Regions from separate parts of the Homo sapiens genome. Here all the other regions are linked to region 3. The links come from fine-mapping of genetic effects on gene expression. A gene starts in region 3. Each other region holds a variant in brackets. All regions are shown on one strand. Distances are from middle to middle.

Region 1 (8,184 bases), 50 kb after region 3:
TAACATTTTGTTGTGTCAATTAGAGGGTCACTTGTTTGTATTGCAATAAACACTGGGACCAGTTCCGGGGTTAAGAATTAATTTTTGTTTTTAATATTTCACATGAAAAGAATCAAAGTAATTGTAATGGCTAGAAGAGACCTGCCAGAAGATTAAAAAAAAGAATGAGAGAAAAGCCCAGTTAGTGGTGTGCAAACTTACTTCCTTTAAATGTCCCATGGATGTAGGACAGTGCCATGTTTCAAGATGCCTGTGAGCTAGGTCTTCAAGATTTATAGAATGTTACTTATGAACAAAATATAATTATTTATGGTACAATTCTTGTACTTTAGCAAATCTGGAGTTAGTTCATAGTCAAAGTCAGTTAATATTTCTTAGAGGAAAGTTTTGCTTTTTGTGGCAACATTTTTATAGCTTGTGTGAGTTCTTTTTTATTTAATGATTTGAAAGCAGTATTTTTGCACAGTCGTGACCGTGTGTGGTGGCGTCACTGTAACCAAAGTATATGCACCAGCCCTTGTGCATTTATTGTTTCTCCTGATTTTGTGGATTTAAATGTCCAAATGCAAACCTTTGTGACTTCCTTTGGAGGACTTGGCAGCACAGCATGCCCCCGTGACCTGCCTGCTGTGGTATGAGCTATGACCAAGAGCAGGCTTCCTGCTCCATGGAGTCCTGAGTTGCTCTGGGGCAGGGGATTACGTTATGAAAACTAACCATGTGTAACAATAAATCTACCTTAGCAGAAAAAGTATGCTTGTTTTATTTTAACCTATAAAGTGGAAATTATCAGTAATATTTTGATGAGTCTTGTTGCTAAATTGGCATAGGTCAAAAGTAGCTTCCATTGTTTCAAGTTGTTCCCGTTAAGATTAAGGCAACAGACGTTAATACTCTCTAGGCTCCGGTCATTTGTTGGGAATTCCAGGGCACCGTAATGGTTTTGCAGACTGAGGGTTTAGAAGGAAACCCTGGTAACTTCTGTTGATGCAGTCCACTAAAGTACATGATAACCCTGCAGACCCCACATTCTCATCCCTTCCTTGAATCCTTTAGGGTCTACAGTTACTTGCAAAGTTGAGGAAGGCATGGTTGCTGGAAGACTGGTGGGGAGGTGAGGCACCCCTAAGCCTGACACTCTCCTACCCCAAGAAAGTACCACTCAACTATCTGGTCAGTGTGGGCATTTATTTTAATTTTGCAAAATATCTGCACAGGGAGAGGAGATGCCCCTGGGGAAGGGTCAGTCCCACTGACCACTGGGGCCTGAAGTTCTGATGAGGAAGAGGACCCATGGCGGGTAGTGCAGACCGGCTCATCCTACCATCCTATCATAGAGCCTTGATTTCAGGTCCTAAAGTATATTCACAACACTTCAGGTAAGTCAAAGCAAAATGTTTTAAATGGTAGAACAAGCTGTCCTCATCTAGGCATTCTGAGTTGTTGATCATTCAAAGCCTAAATCAAGTGGCTCTTCTCAGAATCAATTTCCTAATGAAGATGCCACCATGGTAGTTTAAAAGCTTAGTTTTGTCAGCCTTAGTTAAGAGTCCACGTACGGATTGCCAAAGGTATGCAGATGATTTTCTGAGTCTCATTTAGCATGATGTGATAGATCAGGGGTCCCCAACCCGTTAGAAACTGGGCCTTACGGCAGGAGGTGAGCTGCAGGCAGTGAAGCTTCATCTGTATTTGCAGTCACTCCCCGTGGCTCACATTACCACCTGAGCTGTGCACCCTGTCAGATCAGCAGTGTCATTAGAGTCTCATAGGAGTGCAAACCCTATTGAACTGCGCGTGCACGGGATCTAGGTTGTACGCTTTTTATGAGAATCTAATGCCTAATGATCTGTTGCTGTCTTCCATCACCCCCAGATGGGACTGTCAAGTTGCAGGAAAACAAGCTCAGGGCTCCCACTATACATTATGGTGCATTGTATAATTACTTCATTGTATATTACAATGCAATAATAATAGAAAGTGCACAATAAATGCAATGCGCTTGAATCATCCTGAAACCATTCTGTCCCCCCACCTGTGGGAAAATTGTCTTCCACAAAAGTGGTCCCTGGTGCCAAAAAGGTTGGGGACTGCTGTGCTAGATGATCCTCTGACCTGTGTGCCTTTCTCAGTCACATCAAATGAAATATTGTTACTCCTGAGTACATGAATATCATGACATTTGGTTAAATTGACAAGTACCCATCTTGTTTCCCAAAAATGAACTCCTTGGAGGGACAAGGTTTATTTAACAGGTTAAAAATTAAATTATACACTCAAATTTACTTGTTTGGATAATCACCTACAGCAAAATCACATTTCTGTAAAAATCACCTTAAATAAAGGTCTCCACCACATGGCCCATTTTTTCCAAACGACAGCAAAGAATTTGGTAAAACGAAAGGCTGCACATCCCTTTGGAGTTTGGGCTGACAGCATTTCACAGAAAATGGTTGGAAAATGGTTGAAGCAAGCTCCTAAATGGCCCTTCTTGAGGCTCTGGGAGAGGCACTGTGCCGGCACCTGGCCACTTTCCTCATTACACACTTGGGACCAATCCACTCAGATGGTGGCCTCGCTTCCACTCAGCATGGCTGTGCTTGGACTTGGAGGAATGGGGCAGATGCTCCAGGAGGTCCTCTGTAACCAGTCCCCTACAGGGTTACGTTTCTCTGTTCTCAGGGACAGAGAAATGTATATAGTAGAAGTCGTATCTTTGATGCCTACTTTTTACATTGAAGAAAGTGGCAGAGAGCTCAACCGCACTTCCAGCCCGGTTGTGGCCTGCGCATGAGCAGAGGCCAGGATTTCTCCTCTCCAGGATCCCACTGCCAGAGACCAACTGGGATCCAAGCAGTTAAACAGCTTAATCCTAGGACTGTATGAAATAAAGGCTTATGGACCCGGATTTTACATTTCATTATTCACGTAATTAAGCAAATTATATGTTTCAATTAAGAATCATATTTCTGCAGAACCTAAATTATAACAGAAATAGATCTTTAAAAAATTGCAAAACTGCTTTTACAAAGCAGACATTTATTAACAACATTTTTTTGTAGAATTTCTAAGGAAACAAATTCAAGACAAAAATCCCTCCAGTAGGTAACAAAATGATCTATTGTTTCAATTCCTTCTGATCAAGTGACTTTATTCCATAAAACAGTACATCAGCTGGGCAGGTTCGGTCTCCTCTGGATGTATGACAGTCATTATTTATTTGTGCTGTAAACATAACTAGGATACAGTGACACTGTCATAACTAAATTTGAAGTAAATTAGTACTGTGACCTCCAAGGGCAGGTGTGAAGCATGTTATCAGCGCCTGAAACACCTTGTAGTGGTTTCACTAACATAAGTTAAAACATAAGCACTTAGGAAGAAAGTCTTCCCTCATTAATTTCTGGCATAGTGCAGCTACATGTTCATTCTGGAACTTAAAGTACCTTCCTCTTAGAAAATCAAAGTGTTTTCACAGCAAGTTTAATAAATTAAAAATGTAGAGAAAAAAGGAACTAGTGAACAAAAGAATTCTCCAAGGTTCCCTTTTTAAATTAATGTTTAAATGTTACATGTGAATCATAGCATTTCACAAGCACGTGGCACATACTCAAGGCCCTAGAACCAAATGTCAACGTTTAACAAATACAGCAGAATCGTCTTTTCATTGTGAATTTTTAAAAGCAATAATTAAGTCCTGCATGAAACAGCCAAAGAAGCATTTGGGACAAAGTTACTGGTTCTTCACAATCAACTCTTTAAGGCATAATCGGAGGTAAGTGTGCTGAGACTTTTGGTCCCTACTGCTATGTTCTCACATGCTCCCAAGGAAATAGACATGTCAGTTACTTGCCTGTTTCCATCTCTAGGTGTGGAAATGAGAAGTCTGGGTTTCTGGAAATTACAGAAATCAAGTCAGAAAAACCTGGCAAAAGTAATAATACTCTGTGTTCTATAATTTGCCACAGTCACCTCATTTTGCAAATAAAATGACTACACAACTTTCAAGTACTCTAAAGC[G/A]TCTTAATTTTTCATGCCTCTGCAAAAAAATACTATATTGTTTTGCTAGACTCTTTGGTAGGACAGCTTTTACCTAATCTGATTTTTTTAAGACAAACTGAACAGCCTCATCTCATTTCTAAGTTGATTTTATGACAAACTTCCTAGCTGCGTATGTGCTGAGATTACGCTAGCAGTTTTGCAGGTGTTCAATCTGTCAGTCATACTTTGTTTACTGCCTACAAATGGGGGGTGGGGAGGAATGAATGCAACAATCTATTTCTTCAGTTGCATTTGAGGGTCCCCACAGAAAATCTGATTTGCTTCAATTCAACAGGGAAGAAATGACTGAAAATATGTGGCCCCAGTTTTATTTCAGCTTGGAAGAAAAATACCTTGAAAGTAGTTATGAGAGAAGTAAACCCACATGGAAATATAAGGCAGAGTGAGAAGCCAGGAAGACTGCTAACTACAATATCAGGAGCTGGTTCAGTTCTCTGTACTCTGCAATTAAGACCAGCAGTTATCTATAAACTAGGTAATCAAGAATTAGAACGATTAGCACATACACCCTACACCAGAATTAAGTGAGGTTATGTTCACTGCCTTTTTGTCAATAAAGTAGCTGAGATCATGCAGATCAGGATTTTTGAGGGAAAGCTTTAAAAATGCTGTGATAAAGCCGTGCAAGTTAGCAGAAGTTCAGGAAAATCTGCAGAGGCCATTCTTGCCCACATCTTTGCACATGGACAATTATTTTTCTTAGCCCCACATCATCTTGAGTTCAGCTACCACACACGCAGACTAACAGGATGGGAACTGCTTGAAGCTCTTATTCCATGTTGCTCAAAGAGTGAAGCTGTGTGGGCATCGAGTCTGTCTGTGGGGTCAGCTCGCTAAGCTCACTGATGGTGGTGGCCAGGAGGGTGTCCTGGGACACCACGGAGTCATCTGCCTTGCAGGCTGTGTCAGCAGAACTGTTCTCCTGCATGGTAGGTACAGTGTCTTGGACTGCAGCCAGGTTGTGGAAATGGCCATTTTCTGCAAAAGACAGCAATTTATCCGAAAGCTTGGATGACACATACTCTTCGTCAGGCTGTTCAGTCTTGTGTCCGTCATCGTTCTTGGGCGAGCCATCTACAATGACAAGGAAAGACTTCCATGGAGTATTCTTATCGTGTATCTATAAGTTAAACACAAAACAAAGGTCACTGAATGTGTCTCTGGACAAGTGCATCTTTTAAAACAATAGTCCCTCTACAACTTCAATTTTCAACTTTCACTAATAAGTACCCGCCTGCCACCACCCTCACTGTTACAGAGTAGTCATCGTGGATGGTGCTTTCCCTGGGCCTTGGGGCTTGGTGTTCCACTTCATTCATTCCGTGAGCGTTCCACTGCAGAGACAACCCAAGGAGAAAGTACCTGTTGTCTCGACCTCTAACCACCTTGGAGAATGGTGGTAGGTATTTCTCTTTCCGTGCATCTAAGGGCAGCAGCTTGTTTCTCAAATAAGCCAACCCACTGCTTACTGAGGTGTGCCGCCGAAGAGTGGACTTGTCGGTGAATGTCCGTCCGCACGCATTGCACATGAATGGCCTCTCCCCTGTGTGGATGCGGCGGTGGCGCTGGAGGGCGTTGAGCTGGGTGAACTGCTTGCCGCACTGGTCACAGCAGTAGGGACGCTCCCCTGAGGCAGGGAGAGAGGAGACTGCTGGTGGGTCCCTTTGGCCTACTGTGCTTAATTCTGAATACACACTTGAGTGAATGATGCTGTTGCAAACCACTGGGAAGCCTCAGCATCCAACATAAGGAAGGTTATGTTGGGAACAACTTAAGGGCTACAAATCCACTATCTCTATAATACCAAGAATTTATGGCCTACACCAAAAAGGGGCCAGGACATGTGCCTGCAGCAGGTATTATAACTATAGGAATGACACCTGTTTTCCATGGTAATGGAGTATAAAATTACAAGACCCCTAACAACTGAATATGCATGTGTGCATGTGCATTTACTAACATGTACAGATCATTATCCCTATGTCCACACATCCACATCCACTTCCTACATTCACACCATGACTAAGCTGTCTGTCCTTTTCAGTAAAAACTCCATGTAGCAAAGGGACTTAGTCTTCTCCCGTTTACACACATAAGTGCTCCCACTTTTCAGTTTCTCAGAGTTAGAAACAATCTCTAAAGAAATGCTATTATGACATACAAAGTTTGGCCAGTTTTCTTCAAAAGCTTAGTTCCAAGTAATTTACTGGTAAATCTACAAGCTTTAGAATTTTTTTTTTGGCCAAACTAAACTCCCTTCCCTGGGACATTCCAACCATACCTGTGTGGACTTTAATATGCTGGTACAGTGAATTCCGCTGGGCAAAAGTCCTGAAACATACTTCACATTTAAAGGGTTTGGATCCAGTATGGATTCTATTGTGGTGTTTTAAGTACTCCTTAGAAGCAAAACTCTTGCCACATGTTTCACACATAAAAGGTCTTTCACCTACATGAGAAAATGAAATAAAGTCATAAACAATACAGGCATTAAAAACACATGGAACAGTAGGTCTCCACTGTTAAAACCCACGTGAACTCAAAAGTGCCTTGGTAGGCAGCATGTTACATTTTCCAGTAAAAACTATCATAAAATATATATTCATGTAAGATGCTTGCTACTTACTGAAAGTTGGTGTAAAATATCCTTGGAAATTGCAAGAAAAATTCCATTTGACTAGAATCAAAGAGGTATTGTTTGTTCAGCTGGCTCACATTTTAGAAATTTACTCATTCCAAACAAGAAAATAATTTCACAACTTCTGTTTGGAGGAACTGCTGGATTATTTTCAAAGGAACACTTCTATGGATCTTTATCAGAATAAAGGGGAAGTTGACAATGGATATATATCACTATTCTAGAGTAGCAACTCCAATCAACTTGATTGAATTGTAGGACAAGAGTTTTAAATATCTCACTTTTTGTAGTTTAATCCCACAAATCAGACTTACCAAATTATTAGCTGTGCCCGATTTCACAGACATCAAAATAAAAATAGTGACTTTAATAAAATCTTACCATGTTAATATTATCAAAGGACCAATTCTAACTTAATCCTTCATTATAACCTGACCTTGTCCCCAATCCCAAGCTTTCTTTAAACAATTCTACTCATTCTGTAGTCATAATGCATGTCATTAAATGCTAATTTCATGACATTAAATGAGATTTTCATTCAATGACATGAATTATGACTTCAGAATGAGCAGAACTGGTGTCTAATCACACAGATGTGGTGTCTAATGAGTCAGAGACATGTCATCTCTGTCTCACATGCATTTGAACTTGAGGCTTGTAAGCCAGTGTTTACAGGTAAGAATAAAAAATGCAAGCAAAGAAGAAACTGAGAAGAATTGGAACACTTCAGTGCTGTATGCTTCTGTATCTTCCACAAGATTCTAAACCTCAGGGTTACTGTGCTGAAGCAGAATAAAGCCAACTTAAGTTTTATCTGTCACATAATTAATAAATCATAAAGACTTTGGAAAACAGAAATGAGATAATCCTACTACCTTAATGTATCATATAACAACTTATTTTCTTCTGGTCTTTTATGTGCAGGTTTTCAATACAATTGAGGTTAACTGTATGCTTAATTGTGCATTTTAAAGTTGAACATCCAAGCACAGACTTTTTCATGTCATTCAGAGCCCTTACTCTGAATAGCCGGGTCATAAGCCAGGGTATAGATTTACCAGAGTTGACTAGAGCACTTCCTTGTAGTTGGACAATCAGGCTGTTTCCCATTCTTAGTTAAAAATAGCAAGAAGGGGGATAATAGCATACAGCTCTTCCCATATGTTGGACAATTTCTTTAGGACAGAGTCTTAGAAAAAAAAATTTCGGTTACAAAAGAACTATTTTATATCTCTTGATACCTAAGACCTGCATGCCAGATCCTATGGCCTGGTGGTATAAAAGCCACAGCCATGTGCACACTAGCAACAAGGCAATGGGTGTATGTTTATTCATTTTGCTCACTTACTAGATGGAAAAGCTATATCATGGCTTTAACCTGCACCACCTTGGTAGATGCCAACTTCAAAATTAATCAATTGCATTTCCTTCTAGATCTAGGAAAGACATTCAATCACAACAGCATGAGTATTTACCTGTGTGAC
Region 2 (8,184 bases), 57 kb before region 3:
TTAATTTTAGGAGGGGTCTCAGCAAATGCATTCCAAAGAGCCCTGCTCCTTCAAAACAGGTCACTCGATAAGATGTAGAAAATATTCGGGGTTTGACATAGATCTAGAATTTAGAAATATATGTCAATTTTGTGTACTATAACTTTCAATATGTTTACTTCCTACTTATTCAGGCCACTTAATGACTGACCCAAATCCAGAGAGGTTTCTCCAGGAAACAAGATGGACTCCTGGATTCTGGCTGATCTTGGATATTGACACATTATTCAAAGCTCTACTGGTTTGAGGTCATCATATTACTAACAAAAGTGGCAGGCACAAAATTTACTAACCCTACCAAAGCTGCTTGCATAGCTCATGGCCACTGGGCACCATCAACAGTGAAATCCGCAATAGGGCTATGTTTTCAATTTCTATGAGAGCCGGAACTAAAGAACACAGGCCATGGACAAAATACCCAACTGCAGTAAACACAATTTCTAAAATATTGGAGTACCTTAAAGAACCACTTCACAGCCATAGCCCCAAGCACCGAACACCTGAGGACTCCAAGTATTTATGATTTAGGCCCAAATTTTCTGTTGCAATACAGATAGGGGTAATGCTTGGTCCCTAAGAGAAATATAAAATGAAACCAGTGGGATTTTGTGTGGATCAAGGTAGAAAACAACTGGCTTATTGTGAAAAAGAGCAGGATGCCAGGCCTTCCTTGTGAACTTGGAATTAAAGGTAAAGGTGCTTCCATCAGCAAGCAATGCTGACCAGAGCTCAGGGAGGGTGTGGCTGTGCTTGTCCGGAACAGTAGGCATGGGGTCCATAAACAAGGGCTCCACCCCTCCCAGCCTGAGTGCTCTCAAAGCCAAGGGCCAGCAATTGATTGGTTTTGCTAACCATGCAGACATCCCCTTGGTAATATAAATATGCCCTATCAAATTATGGAGGGATGTTGCACACAAATCCTGCACAGAAGTTGGCCGAAGGACCAAAGCTGCCACATCTTTTTGCCATGACAGATGGAGCTACCCAAAGCTGTTTCTGAAAATTCTGTCCCATAAGCCCTATGGCAAATTCATGGGAATGAGCTATCCAGGAAAAAGGCAGACTTCTTACCAAGAAATATTCAAATCACCCCCCAAACCAAGGATGGAGGAGTAAAGACTCCCTAGCCCTTCTGTTCGGGAAGACTCCTCCAGAAACTGTTGCACTGTCTCTTTGCCCAATGCATGTCCCCCCACCACACCATCCCCTCATCTCTCTGCCCCTCCAAGGCTGATCCCCCACCAAGACCCCAGCAGAGAGGACTGCTTGTCAGGATGGGTGTCTGTCACCACAGTGCTTCTCCCAGGGGCAGTGAGTGATGCTGGCAGCTATGAAGCCCTGGCTGGGTCCCAGATAGGTAACACAGGCATCAGGAGCAGGTGTGGGCATGCAGACTGGAACTGCCATCTTCTGAGCTCTGGAGAAGACATCTGAGCTCTGGAGAAGACATCATTGTGATTCATGCAGCCCTCGGTGTCCACAGAGGGCAGAGCCTCCTGTCAGCTTCAGTGACCTTCTCTGATCCCTAGGCCTGCGCCTGGCCCTTCTGCAGAAGAGCCACCCTCTGTGAGCCTGTTCCTGAGATGGAAACAGAAGGGTCATGTGTGGTTAACAAAATTGTCTGCATTCCTTTAGAGTGGATGGATGATGGCATAGAGAAATGGAAGGATGAATGAATGAATCAGTGCATGAATGAAGGAACAGATGGATGGATGGATGGATGGATGGATGGATGGATGGATGGATGGATGGATGGATGGATCGATGGGTGGATGGATGAGTACACCAACCAACTGGTGGGGGGCTCCTACATGAACTGCCTCAAATCAACTGGGGAGTTTGGTTTATTCAACAGTCTACACCTGCAGCCAAGGTAACGATGATAATGAATTCTCCCTTGCTTATCACTGCCAGAAACATCCATGGCAAATAAATAATAGGAAAGAGTGCAAAACTGTTCACAGACCCAGAAGGAGCTAAGATGTCTTTAATTCTGCTAGTGCAGCATAGGCCTAGAACTACAAACTTTCATACTCTAGAGGAAGAGAGGACTTCTGCTGCAAAAAATCAGGGGCTCTGCCACCACCTGTTTCCACATTACAGGTGATGTTTAGGAGGTTGAACTGGGAAAACCAAGGTCGGGCATCCATGACAAATGTGCAGTATACCTGAAAAAAAATAAGTATAACATATAAATTAGAAAAATGTAATGCACTGAGAGCATTTAGCATGTAGTAGGGGGTCAAGATGTATTAAAAACTACAAAAAATGAAAAACAAAAACAGTCATCCAGGAACAGGGCTTGAAATGCCCAAGCCTCCACCAGGACAAGGGGCACAGGTGGCTGAATGCTCCCACCTGAGCCTGGGGATTCCTGAAAGCATGCCTGATTGGGCCATCACCTGACCCCTGAAGCATCGTGTCCACTCACAATCTCCCTAGCACACATGATGCTGGATGAACGGCTCCCACCCTGTGTGTTCTAGGGGAGAGAATGAACTTCCCAAGGGATGGTCCCTCTGGGCACCCACCAACTGAGCACAGCAGTTGACAGCAAGCCTGCAGGTGGAAGGGCGAGACCAGCCCTGCTGCTCCTGTAACTCTGATTCAGAGCATCCTCAACCTCTGAGCTCACATGGGTCATGTATGGGTCATGGGAGGATGGTGTCAGAACTCAGACTGACTAGGACACATCCTTACCACACAGGAACTAGAGGGACAGGTTGAGTGACCGGAGAAACTAGACAGTCCTGCAATCCCCAACAACAAAATAAGAGTGAGGACTGCATGGAGAACATCATCTACCTGGATCTCGAGGGTCTCAGGAAGGTACTGGCCTGGGGAGCAAAGTGAGGGCTTGGTCTGGGGACAAAGGCCATGTAGAATCTGCAGGTGCCTGCTATGTCCAGTCAGCCATGCTGTAGGCAGAGGGATCTCCCTGGCACTGAGGCCAGGCTTTGTCTGCTTACATGCCAGCCTTCTGCCTTCACTGAGGGAGCCCTGACACCAGGTGGGAGAGGGCTCAGGGACCCTCATTCTGCCCCAGGATCACCTCTGATGACCTTTCTAAGCCTCCTCCCAAAGGCCCACCTTGATATTACTATCCATTCCCGAGAGATTCATGATGCTTTGGGGTTGATTTTATTCTCAAACCTTTTTCTCTGCTGAGCCTTCTTGCAATGGGCAATTGTCAATGTCTTCATCATATTTTTTACAAATTGTGAGGCCCATCTCCAAATCTGTTAAAAATATCATTGTCTGAACTCAAACAAATTTACAAGGAAAAAACAAACAACCCCATCAAAAAGTGGG[C/T]GAAGGACATGAACAGACACTTCTCAAAAGAAGACATTTATGCAGCCAAAAAACACATGAAAAAATGCTCACCATCACTGGCCATCAGAGAAATGCAAATCAAAACCACAATGAGATATCATCTCACACCAGTTAGAATGGCAATCATTAAAAAGTCAGGAAACAACAGGTGCTGGAGAGGATGTGGAGAAATAGGAACACTTTTACACTGTTGGTGGGACTGTAAACTAGTTCAACCATTGTGGAAGTCAGTGTGGTGATTCCTCAGGGATCTAGAACTAGAAATACCATTTGACCCAGCCATCCCATTACCGGTTATATACCCAAAGGTCTATAAATCATGCTGCTATAAAGACACATGCACACGTATGTTTATTGCGGCATTATTCACAATAGCAAAGACTTGGAACCAACCCGAATGTCCAACAATGATAGACTGGATTAAGAAAATGTGGCACATATACACCATGGAATACTATGCAGCCATAAAAATGATGAGTTCATGTCCTTTGTAGGGACATGGATGAAATTGGAAATCATCATTCTCAATAAACTATCGCAAAAACAAAAAACCAAACACCGCATATTCTCACTCACAGGTGGGAATTGAACAATGAGAACACATGGACACAGGAAGGGGAACATCACACTCTGGGGCCTGTTGTGGGGTGGGGGGAGAGGGGAGGGATAGCATTGGGAGATATACCTAATGCTAGATGACGAGTTAGTGGGTGCAGTGCACCAGCATGGCACATGTATACATATGTAACTAACCTGCACATTGTGCACATGTACCCTAAAACTTAAAGTATAATAATAATAATAATAAATCATTGTCCACGTCTGTCAAGAAGAATTATACAAACAGTTGCTAAGTGTTTTCTTTTCATGAATTTTTTTAAAAGGCAGAGAAACAAATAGGAAAGTGGATAAAAGGCTGCCATGTGCATGTCATATAAATAGGCCTAGACAGGGCCATGTACAATCTCTCTGCAGGTCAGTAGAAGACAGTCCACTAAGTGTGCTTCAGATACACACTGGAATCTTCCCAATGACTAATACCTGACAGACAAATTGACAGAGTGATAAACATAGGGTGTGACACACTCACACAATCAAATCCTGCGCAGCAGTGAGCCTGCACATGCCGCAGCCACACCTAACAATACACTGCCTCTGCCTTACACCTGAGCCTCAGCCACACACAGAGGGCTCACACTGGGTGGTTCCTTTTACACAGAGTGAGAAATGGGCGAGACTAATGCCTGGGATTAAAAACTAGGTCAGCAGGACTCCTTGCAGGTTAGAATCTAGATGGGATCACAGAGGGGGCTCTGGGGGATGGCACTGTTCTGCTTCATGTGAGTGCTAATTGCTCGTAACCATCTACCTTGCCAGTGATCATCGAGGTGAATGCAGAGCTGCACCATGCTGTTGTGCATGTTTCTTAGGCTTCTATAAGAAGTGATTAAAAGTTATTTTCATTTCTTTACGTAGAAGTCCATGAAACTCAGGAAGCACCCAAATGTAGAGAGAAAATGAATCCAGACCAGAAGTCTGGACAGGCTGGGGCACAGGTCTCACTGGACAGCCTAGAAATTGTCGAGAAACTTGACCCAGTCAAGGGCTCAGCAATCCATGCTGGGGTTGAGATGATACCCAACTATGCCCTGGAACAAACTAACAACCACACTCATGCCCCTATACACACAACACACTCACATTCATGACCAACACACACAACACACTCACACTCATGCCCCTATACACACAACACACTCACACTCATACCTAACACACACTCACACATGCATGCCCAACACATGCCAGAAACATGCACTCATGCCCAACATACACCAACATACACTCACGCGCAACACACACCAACACACTCACACTCATACCCAACACACACACCACACTCACACTCAAGCCCAACACACACCAACACACTCACACTCGTGACCCTATACACATAACGCACTCACACTCATGCCCAACACACACTCACACACACATGCCCAACACATGCCAAAAACATGCACTCATGCCCAACATACACCAACAACATACACTCATGCCCAACACACTCACATACTCATGCCCTGACACACACCAACACACTCACACTCATGCCTGACACAAACCAACACATTCATACTCATGCCTGACACACACCAACATACACTCATGCCCAACCCTCAACACACTCACACACTGATGCCCCAACACACCAACACACTCACAGTCATTCCTTGATTCACACCAACAGCACACTCATGTTTTTACATATATCAATAACACACTCACATACTCATACTCCCATACACACCAAGAACACTCACATATGCCCTGCCCCTCCTTACATTCTCCCCTTTTAGGCTGGCATGAAGCCCCCACCCCGGGCACTGTGGCTGGGCAGCAGCATAACCCCCCTGTGCCCAGGGCTCCTGCAGCCTCCCAGGGTCCAGGGATGGGGATGCAACCCAAGGAAGGGGCAGATGGCCAAGGAAATGGGCAAAGATCAGGAAGGCTGTGTGCCCACCGCAGGAGGAAGGGCCCCTGAGCCCAATCTTCAGAAATGTGGTGCAGACATGGGACCCCCTCCCACGTCACCCCCTGCTGCCATCACCACGGGCTTTGAGCTATTCAGTCGGTGAAGAGAGTTCTGGGAGTGGACAAAATGACTGCCACTCACCTTCTGCTGGGCTCGCTGGACCTCCAGCAACCTGTGCGTGTACTCTTCCATATTGTCCTCATTGAACTGAGCCACAGCAAACTCCATTGATGCCACAAAATACTGATGTCTACGAATTCTTTTTGAATGATCCAGATGCGGGTGCTCAGCACAATAAGTGCCATGAGCAGGGGCACCTTCTACCACATGGCTATCCTCAGCGTACCCACTGGGGGCCAGGGACACTCAGGTGGAGGAGTGGTGGCAGCTGCTGCTGGTGACTCCCTTCTCAGCTCTGGGTCCCACACAGCCCTGTCCACCAGGGGCCCTGAGCTGTTGAGCACCTCCCTTTGAGCAGTGCCTTGTCCAGTGCCTCTCTCCACAACCCCGCAGAGTCCCTCCGTTATCTCCAAACAAGGCAGAGCAGGAGGTCACATAACTTTGGACCTGCAGGCATGCATGCAACATGCCTGCTGCCTACCTTTTCAGGGAAGCCTCCTCCAGCTGCAGCCCAGCCCTGAGAAGACCCGGTGGAGACCTCGAGCCCACCTGGCTTGCCCTCACATAGTGCATGTAAGGCTCACCAGGGAAAAAGAAATCTCTGAGACCTCTGGTGAGCCAGTTCCTGAAGAGCAGAAGCAGTTGCTAAGCCTGCCCATGACGGGGCTGGAGCCCACATTGCCAGCTGGGCCCAGGAGAGCACAAAGTGTGTGGCCAGTGGGGCTCTGAAGGGTGCAAGGGAGATGTCTATAAGAGTCCATTTTCCCTGCTGCCAGACCTTCCTCCACCAGAAGGTGCAACTGGCTTCATCCTCCCAGGCTGATTATTAGTTTTCCTTCATTTCAAAACCAGTTGTAATTTCCACTATGACATTTTTTTTAATCTGTGGGCTATTATAGCTGTATTGTTTAATTTCCAAATGTAGTTGATTTTCTAGTTATCTTTTCTCTCATCGACTTCTAATTCAAGTCCACTATAGTCAGTCAGAGAACACCATTTCATTATCTCCCTTCTTTGAAATTTTTGAGTTATTTGTCTAGAATAACCAATATTCTATTAATATATGCAGTTGAAAAGAATACGTATTCTGCATTTTATAGATGTAGAGTTAGATATTTATATACATCAGTAAGTCCATTCTGTTGAAATTTTCTATATATTTACCCTTTTTTCTTTATTTCTTTTTTTTTTTTTTTTCCTGAGGCAGAGTCTCACTCTGTCACCTAGGCTAGAGTACAGTAGCACGATCTCAGCTCACTGCAACCTCTGCCTCCTGGGTTTAAGCAATTCTCATGCTTCAGCCTCCCAGGCAGCTGGAATTACAGACATGTACCACCACGCTTTTGGATTTATAGTAGAGACAGGGTTTCACCATGTTGGCCAGGCTGGTCTCAAACTCCTGGCCTCAGGTAATCCACCCGCCTCAGCCTCCCAAAGTGCTGGGATTACAGGCATAAGCCACTGTGCCTGGCCATATTTACTCTTTCTACTTTGTCTTGTTTTATTGAGTTTGGTTTGGTTTGGTTTTGGTTTAGGTTTTGGTCGCCTTTTCTGCCAGTTACTGAGGGGTATGTTAAAATTTCTCATGATGATTATGATTGTGAATTTGTCTATTTCTTTCTGACAATTTTTGCTTGATTTATTTTCAGACTATGTCGTCCAGGGCTTATACAAGTAGAATTGTTACACTTTCTTGGTGGCTGACCATTTTATCATTATATAATGTACCAGTTTATGCTGAGTAATGCCTCTTGCTCTGAAGTCTGATGTCAGAGACACCAAAACATTTAGCATTGTTTTGATTCTTATTTACTTGAATATCTTTATTCATACTTTTATTCTAATATGGTATCTTAATTAATATGTGCCTTTATAACCACCAAATAGTTTTTTAAATCAGTCTAAGAGTCTTATTTGGAAAGTTGTTCCATTTACATTACTCATATTATTAGTTACTAATGACTAATATTACCATATGTTTGGTTTCAAATCTACCATATTGCTATTTGTTTTCTATTCATTTCATTTGTCCCTGTTTCTTGTTTTATTCAATTTCTTCTCCTCAGTGGCTTTTAGTTAACCTCCCCTTTTGTCTTTTCTTTTTTTTGAGATGGAGTTTCACTCTGTCACCCAGGCTGGAGTGCAGTGGTGCAATC
Region 3 (8,184 bases):
TTCCTGCTCTGCCTTCTCAGAAACTCCCTGAAGCCTTTTTCTTCTTTTCTTACAAGTGTCCAGAACTTCTGAAAAGCAAAGCACATAGAGGCTAGTGCCATCCACTAGGACTTGTGGAATGATAAAATTGTTCTCTGTCTGTGCAGTCCATATAGTAGTGTAGGGGGGCATCTCAGGCTCCTGGTGGAGTCTGAAAATTAAACTTACATAAGACAAGTTAATAGCAGGAAAGCACACAGGTGTATTTGATACAAGTTTTACATGGCATGGGAGGCCTCATAAGGAAATGAAAACCCAAAGAGGCAGTTAGAGTGTGTTACTTATTTACTGAATTGGACAAAGAATAGTAAACTGAAAATGTGATGAGGCAGAGGGGCTTGGGCTAGGGTAGTTAATTGGATAGAAAAGTGACTAAGAAGATAAGGGTTAGTTTAATAGGGTTTGTACAGAATTCTCTTAGCCTCAACTTCCTGTCTTTGATGATAAGAATGTTGCTTTAGTTCTAGTATAAGAGGGACATCTTTCATATGGGAATTTCATCTCTTGCCTTTAAATAAACAAGAGGTTGGGGCCAGGCGCGGTGGCTCACGCCTGTAATCCCAGCACTTTGGGAGGCCGAGGCTGGTGGATCACGAGGTCAGGAGATCGAGACCATGCTGGCTAACACAGTGAAACCCCGTCTCTACTAAAAATCCAAAAAATTAGCCGGGTGTGGTGGTGGGTGCCTGTAGTCCCAGCTACTTGGGAGGCTGAGGCAGGAGAATGGCGTGAACCTGGGAGGCGGAACTTGCAGTGAGCCACTGCACTCTGGCCTGGGCAACAGAGTGAAACTCTGTCTCAAAAAAAAAAAAAAAAGAAAGAAAGAAACAAGAGGTCAAAGTGTCCAGTGTGTATTCTGTATGCAAAAAAGAAAAGAAAAAGTCAAAATAATCTTCTTGCACCTGTCGTTTTTTGGGTGTCTAACTTTTTTTTTTTTTTTTGAGCAGAGTCTCACTCACTCTGTCGCCCAGGCTGGAGTGTAATGGTGCAATCTCGGCTCACTGCAACCTCTGTTCCACCTCTCAGGTTCAAGTGATTCTCCTGCCTCAGCCTCCTGAGTAGCTGGGATTACAGGCATGCACCACGACACCTAACTAATTTTTGTATTTTTTGTAAATTTTGTATTTTTGGTAGAGATGGGGTTTTACTGTGTTGGCCAGGTTGGTCTTGAACTACTCACCTCAAGTGATCCGCTTGCCTTGGCCTCCCAAAGTGCTGGGATTACAGGCGTGAGCCACCGCCCTCAAGTATCTAACTTAGTCAATCCACCAGGTGTCTAACTTAGTCAATCCACCAGGATGCTATATTTATAACTCTTTCAGTAGCCACTGGCTATGTGTGGCTATTGAGCACTTGAAATACGGCTAGTACAGCCAAGAAATGGAACTTTACATTTTATTTAATATTATTTAACTTGAATGTAAATAGCCACCAGTGGTGAGTGGCTCCATCCTGGGCAGCGCAGGTGTGGGCAGTGGGTCCTTTGGCTCTTCTCCAAGATGACTTCTATTCTTCTCCTGATCCACACCAGGGGTGCTTCTCCTTTCCTTTTCCTTCTTGTTTCAAGGATTCCTCAGCTGTCTCTCTAGTCAGGCCTTATTCTGTGAGGTTCATCTCTCTGCCCTGCCTCCTTTCCTCCCCCAGCCTTTGGGAGAATAAAACACTAGCTCTACCCAGTAATTAAGGTTTGAAGGTTTTCTCCCACTTTGGTGTGGACTGGCAGAACGGTGGGAGTGCCCACAAATTTCCTGTGACAAAGAAGAGAATGAAGGAAATTACTAGAAACCACCAAAAATGTCTCTCTTAATTGCAAGTGCTAGCTTCGGGGAGGCAGTCTGTTCCAGCTCCTTTTCAACTGACTACAGATATGAGAATCTAGAACTGTGTGCTTTAGGATAGGGATGGAGAGTTCTTTTCAAAATGTGCATTTTCTAGACCCCAGCTGCAAGAGACCTTGATACCAAAACCCAGTGGCCTAGGAATCAGTATTTCTTAAATATCCATTAGAGCTTCTGCATCGAACCACGTTAGGGAACAACTGATTTAATCAACACACTGATTTACTTAGGAGCTTTTGACTTAGCCTCACTCCATTAAGCCCCCATAGACTGCTCTGCTTTCCAAATGCTTATGTTCACTTTTTACAGTTTTTCTCTGGTCTCCCCTGCATTTACGGTCACCTCCAATTTCCCGCCTCCTTCTCTCTCCAAAAACACACAGCTCAGCTTTTCAAAGTTAGAATAATGCATGTAGTAATCGTAAATAAACTGCACGAAGAGCTGAGATTTCTTTCTATCTCTACGGAGTCCTGAAATGTATGAACTCTGTGACATGTGCTTTAGTCAACTTTCTTTCTAGGAGTTTGGCCCCTCTTGCCTTGCCCTCTACAGACAGTCTTCATTTTCTAAAATTTTGCATGCCAGTGCCCAGAGTGTATTTATTAACAGTTTGAAACTGTCATAAATCTCACTTGGCAGTGATTTTCTTATTAGTTTCAGCATCTCTGCCTTAGCACTGCCAAGCTTGAATGGTCTAGACATTGTCTTCAAAAATAACTCCCTCTGGGACAGGCCTGAAAGTCTCTGGCACAGGATCCCATCTATCTATGGATACTTCTCCTAGGAGATTAGAAGTCTTCCTGGCAGGCAAACATTTTGTCCCTGGAGATCCATCCACTATGGCCAGTATTATGTAAAGGATAAGAGTTCAATGGTTCACATCCATTGAATATAATTCAGTCAACAAAAGAGTGGATTATGCATATATTGCATATATGCAACTCATTTATAACCAAGGAAGAGAGGACCAACAGAAAGTTACAGTTTGGGGAGATTTAAAAATAACTGAACTTATATTGGGGACGTCTTGCTCTTGGAGATAAAAATGGCTCTTATTGCCAGCTGTTGCTCGTTTTTTGGTGGGCGGTATCAAGCATGTGATGCTTTGGTGGCTACACCAGATTCTCTTTTGCAGAACTTGCATGAAGGGTGTGGGTTCCATCCAATCTGTTATCCCCTGTTCCTTCATCCATCCCATTGCCATGCGAGTCTTACTGAGGAGGTGATCTTTACTAGAGGCCACGGATCATTTTTCCATTTCTGCATACATACAAAATTAAAGTTCACCTTGGCCCAGGACCCCTTTGGGGGGGTCACGCCCCCTGCGCCGACGTCCTGGGAGCTAGCGGTGCGCAAGCTCGGCTCACACACACCCCGCCCCGGGGCCTCCTGGGAACTGTAGTAGGCGGCTCGCGAATCCCCGCCGCCATGACAGGACCCGGACTACAGCTCCCGAAAGGCCTCGCGCGTCGCGCCTGCGCCTGCGTCCCTGCGGCCGCCAGAGGGAGGGTTAAGGCGCCTGGGCGCACAGCGAGCCGGCTGAGGGGGCTGTGGCGGCCGCGGCGGGCGACATGGACAACGCGGGGAAGGAGCGTGAGGCAGTACAGCTGATGGCGGAGGCCGAGAAGCGAGTCAAGGCCTCCCACTCCTTCCTCCGAGGGCTGTTTGGGTGAGCGCCAGACCGTGCGTGCCCTGGGGGGGGGGGGTCTCCGTACTTGGCCCCCTTCCTTTCAGGCTGACCCCCCGAGTCCCCCACGCAACCTCTGGGGCCCTCAGACCACGTCTAGGGGCCCTCAGCCTGCAGGCGCCCTCCAGAAATCCTGTAGGGTCCCCCAGCGCCCCCTGGAGCCCCCAGGACGCCCAGGGGCCCTCAGTCCGCACGCGCCCTCCAGAGACCCCACAGGCCCCCCCAGGGTCCCTGGAAACCCCGCATCCTCCCAGGGGCTCTCAGCCCCCACGCGCACTTTAGAGACCCCCTAGGGCCGGCAGAACTCCCCAGGGTTCCTCAGCCCCCACACGCTCTCCGGATCCCCTAACACGCCCCCTTAGAATCCCCAGAGTCTCACAGGGACCCTCAGCCCCCACGCGCCTTTCAGAGAACCCCTAGGACCCCCAGAGCTCCCCAAGCGCCCCACGAAGCCCCTAGAACACTCTGGGGGGGGGGCTGTCAGCCTCACGCGCCCTCTGGAGACCCCAGATCGCCCCCCTCGCCCTGGCCCGGGTTGGTGCGGGGGTCCCACGACCTAGAAGGTCAGCGGCTCCCTGAGGCCCGCGGGCGCGGTAGCTCGGGGCGCGCGTGGGGCCCCCTTCTCAGTGCGTAGCGAGTCGTATTGGTGCATTTCGCCACGCTGAAGCCCGTATCGCTCCTGAGACCGGTCCGGGTGAGGCGCGCCGGGGTGGAGCCGGAGGGGTGGGTGCGGGGGCCGCCCCCGGCGCCTGGAACGCGCACCTGGGGGCGTCCCGCCTGCAGGTGGGCCCCGCCGGGGAGGGGGCGGTCCGGCGAGGGATCCAGAGCTGGTGTGCTTGTTGGCCTCTCTCCAGGGGCCTTGCGCCGAGTACACCTTTAGTAAATACTTGACTAATGAACGAATATATTTTCTCAGCATAGTATTTTTCCTTCTCCGGAGATTGATTGATAGCCAGAGCCTCCTGTTTGATTAACGGTAACGCTGCTGCTGTTTAAGTCAGGCGTCCTTTGGGAATCCCTTTAATTTCCTGTAATTCTTCCGTGCTCTCCTAAGGAGGATTTTAAATTCCAACCTCTCAAAAAGCAGAGCCCGCACTGACAGCCCGGAAGAATTCTGGGCTGTTGAATATGTGAATGATTCAGCTGTTTAGGATGAGAAAGGCAGAAATTTTGTGTGTGCCTGTTTCGTTGTTTTCTTTTGAAAGTGAAAGATCCTTTGCTGTTACCAAGAGCAGATACTTAACCCATTGCATGACTAGACACGATTTTATTTCTGTACACATTCAGTTCAGACTCTATTTCAGAAGACAGACATAATGGGCTCTTAGCTTGTTTTGCCAACTTCATTCTTTTGGCTATAAATTATAATACTTTACCGCTATTGATACGTCTTTAGGAAATGCTTAAGGACAAGTTGCATGCAGTACGCATAACTGCAGAAATGCATAAAGGCTGCAAAAATGCAAGAAGATAAGGGTCCCTGTCCTCAGGAACCTCTCAGAGGACGTTTATCACAGCTGGTTTCTAAATTTCTCATGTGATGTGTAGGAGATATAGCTATGAATTATGTTTTGTTTTGCATTTAAAAGTTATGACAGTACCATCAAGTGCTAGCGCCACACTAACTCCTTTTAAATGTTTTGATTCACAAAACATTTAAAATTCACTCTAATAAAATTTAATGTCATAGTACCTCATGCCAGGAGGTTATTTTAATGTTACAACATTATTTCAAGTCAGGAAGTGCTTCCCTGTGGGAGAGTCTGTAACTGGCAGAGGAAAAAGCTTGACAGCACTTGGTGCTTGTCTCAGGAGAACACTCCTTTTGGGAAAGAGGTTTTCGATGTTTTTAGGAAACTAGGCCAAATCTTGAGCTTATAATCCTTAAAGGATTTTGAAAAGCCTTTGTTTTTAAAGAAACATCTCCCTTTTAAATGTTGCTACCTATGTTATTGACAGGACATATAAGAAGACGAATCTTCACCATTCACACTCAGTTACACAAAAGTTAATGCATCTTAGTTCTTACCTGGGTACAACAGGTTGGTTTATTATCTAGCTTTGGGACCTAGGGCAAGTTACTTAGCCTCTCTGTGCTTCAGTTTCCAGTGTATAAAACGGAGACAATAATAGTATATCTCAAAATTTATGGGAGTTCAGTGAGGTTATGTTTATAAAACATTTGGAACCATGGATGTTGGAGACAGTGACCATGAGATATTAATTAGCATATTCATCAAAATTATCAGCTCCAGTTATTTATCAAAGAAGCAGTAGGCCAAACAGATAACTTTTCCAGAATTTCAGAGCCGTAGACTGCATCATTGATTTTTTTTTTTTGAGACGGAGTCTCACACTGTCACCCGGGCTGGATTGCAGTGGCGGGATGTCAACTAACTGCAACCTCCGCCTCCCAGGTTCAAGCGATTCTCCTGCCTCAGTCTCCTGAGTAGCTGGGATTACAGCCACCCGCCACCACGCCCGGCTAATTTTTTTTTTTTTTTTGTATTTTTAGTAGAGACGGGGTTTCACTGTGTTGGCCAGGCTGGTCTCGAATGCCTGACCTCGTGATCCACCTGCCTTGGCCTCCCAAAGTGCTGGGATTACAGACGTGAGCCAGCACGCCCAGCCTCATTGATCTTTTAATGAAATAAAATATCTGAAAGAGCTTTAACCATTAATGTACCATGCAAGTGTGATTTATACTTTGAAGACTGTTATTTCCAGTAATACTTGCTCCAGGAAAGCTTGCAGGAAGAAGAGTACTTAGAATTTTAGGAGTTTAGTAATATTGTATAATTACTGAAGCCAGAAAACAGACGTAGTGTTCCTGTGTCAGTAGGACAATTAAGATTCTGTATCAATTTTAGATGTTTAGAATCCTACCTTATAGATGGCATGTATCATCACCTTTCTAGACTGGAATACATGTTATTCCACCCTGCCCCTGCCTTCTTAGCTATAGAATGTCACCATTTTCATTCCTAAAGGTCTGCATGTAATCCTTTATTTAAAACGCAGAGTAATCCATCTCTATGTCAGACTCCAGAATTAATGTAATACAAAATTAATAAAACACACATACTGACTTGAATATCATCAGAGCTCATATATTTAAGAGCTGACTAGCTGGTGCTTTAAAGAGGATAAGCCATCTGTTTTCAGGTTGTGGCAGTCATTAAAAGCTGCTTGGCATATTGCAGATATTTCACATCACAGACATTCTGAATGCTCTATCTGCAGATTAAAGCCTGTCATGAGTTCTCTAGTGTTTACCACTCACAGTGGTTTTGTGGCAATACTGTATTCTTAGTAGTATTCTATAGCTTTTGTTTCTTGCTTTCAGTAAAATTAGATGAAAATATGCATATGTATTTATGAGAACATGTCAGTCAAATATTTCTTCTCTGTGTAAGGCACAAATCCTCTGCCTTATCTGCTTGATAGGTAAGGTATCAATATTCCTTTCCCATCCCCACCTTCCTCCCCAGGAAAAGAGCTGACAAGGGATGCAAACATTGCAGGAAACCACTGTTGTGGTGGTTTGTGTTTCTGCTTAATTGCCCGTTAAGCAGTAATGTGCTTTTGTAGTTGTGGAATTAAAACTTTTTCTCAAGTTTGTAGTATAGTACGTTTAGTAAAACTACTTCCAAAGGAGTTGTCTTGTCCTTTAGTTTGTTGCCAGGGATGAGCTATGGAATTTTGTAGTTAATTTCAAATTCCAGTTTATAATGTTAATGAACTACTGGTATGATTTTAAATCGGCCTGAGTCTGACATTAAGATAGTTTTGAATTGGAAAAGCCTCTTATAATACTATCCCCTCCATCTTGTTGCTATGAGACCCGGTTGGGAATAACCTGCACAATGCACATAGAAGAAAGTGCTTAAGACTGACAGTGGAGGCCAGGTGCAGTGGCTCACGCCTGTAATCCCAGCACTCTGGGAGGCCGAGGCGGGTGGATCACTTGAGGTCAGGAGTTTGAGACCAGCCTAGCCAACATGATGAAACCCCGTCTCTACTAAAAATACAAAAATTAGCCTGGCGTGGTGGCGGGCGCCTGTAATACCAGCTACTTGGTAGGCTGAGGCAGGAGAATCACTTGAACCTTGGAGGTGGAGGTTGTAGTGAGCTGAGATTGTGCCACTGCACTCCAGCCTGGGCCCCCGAGCGAGACTCCGTCTCAAAAAAAAAAAAAAAAAAGAATGCCAGTGGAAAGATGTTCTTTATGGTTAATGCTGTCTTCCTTTGCCTTTCAGTGTTTAGTCTGAGTTTACACAAGAGCTACAAATTTGGCAATGTCAATGTAAATTTAATGAAAGGCCCCATTGGGTTATCTTGAAATAATTATGAATCTATAATTTGTTGGTTGTTTGTGAAAATTGTGAATATTTCTTAAGCATTGTAGACTGTAAATTATCAGTATTCTTCACTTGTGTTTATTTCAACAAAGATTGCTTTTAAGTTTGGCCAAAATATGGTGGGGCCATGTGATAACATAGGTGAAGCATTTAGGTTTTCCTCAGTTACAATTCTTGTTCAAATGCAGATTGAACTTTTAAAAAAATTATTAGGCTCAGGTTTACTGACAGAGACAGGTGATACAGTATAAGAAATATA

Direction of the effects. Positions count from the first base shown, and alleles are read on the strand shown. Sizes are in standard deviations (SD) of each study's normalised expression. Not every link is listed here.
As copies of G replace A in region 1, the expression in monocytes of the gene that starts at base 3,363 in region 3 goes down (moderate effect, 0.52 SD a copy in BLUEPRINT).

What was found.
Region 1: its variant is fine-mapped to the expression of NAPB in monocytes (BLUEPRINT, PIP 0.95).
Region 2: its variant is fine-mapped to the expression of NAPB in whole blood (TOPMed, PIP 0.97).

What each region holds. Positions count from the first base shown.
Region 1 is chr20:23,367,089-23,375,272 of GRCh38, reverse strand. GZF1 (GDNF inducible zinc finger protein 1) reads right to left here. Exons shown (of 6, transcript NM_022482.5): 3 at 8,176-8,184; 4 at 6,344-6,511; 5 at 5,532-5,689; 6 at 2,211-5,182. The coding sequence ends at 4,832. It overlaps NAPB (NSF attachment protein beta), which reads left to right. Exons shown (of 11, transcript NM_022080.3): 11 at 1-751. Among named protein-coding and RNA genes, the nearest start is that of GZF1, 9.0 kb to the right of the region's middle. The variant G/A (reference allele first, on the strand shown) is at 4,021.
Region 2 is chr20:23,473,753-23,481,936 of GRCh38, reverse strand. It overlaps the pseudogene CST12P. Among named protein-coding and RNA genes, the nearest start is that of CST8, 13 kb to the left of the region's middle. RefSeq lists an enhancer at 5,432-6,259 and a silencer at 5,971-6,265. The variant C/T (reference allele first, on the strand shown) is at 3,352.
Region 3 is chr20:23,416,667-23,424,850 of GRCh38, reverse strand. NAPB (NSF attachment protein beta) reads left to right here and starts at 3,363. Exons shown (of 11, transcript NM_022080.3): 1 at 3,363-3,546. The coding sequence starts at 3,449. RefSeq lists an enhancer at 2,985-3,174 and silencers at 3,425-3,514, 4,145-4,374.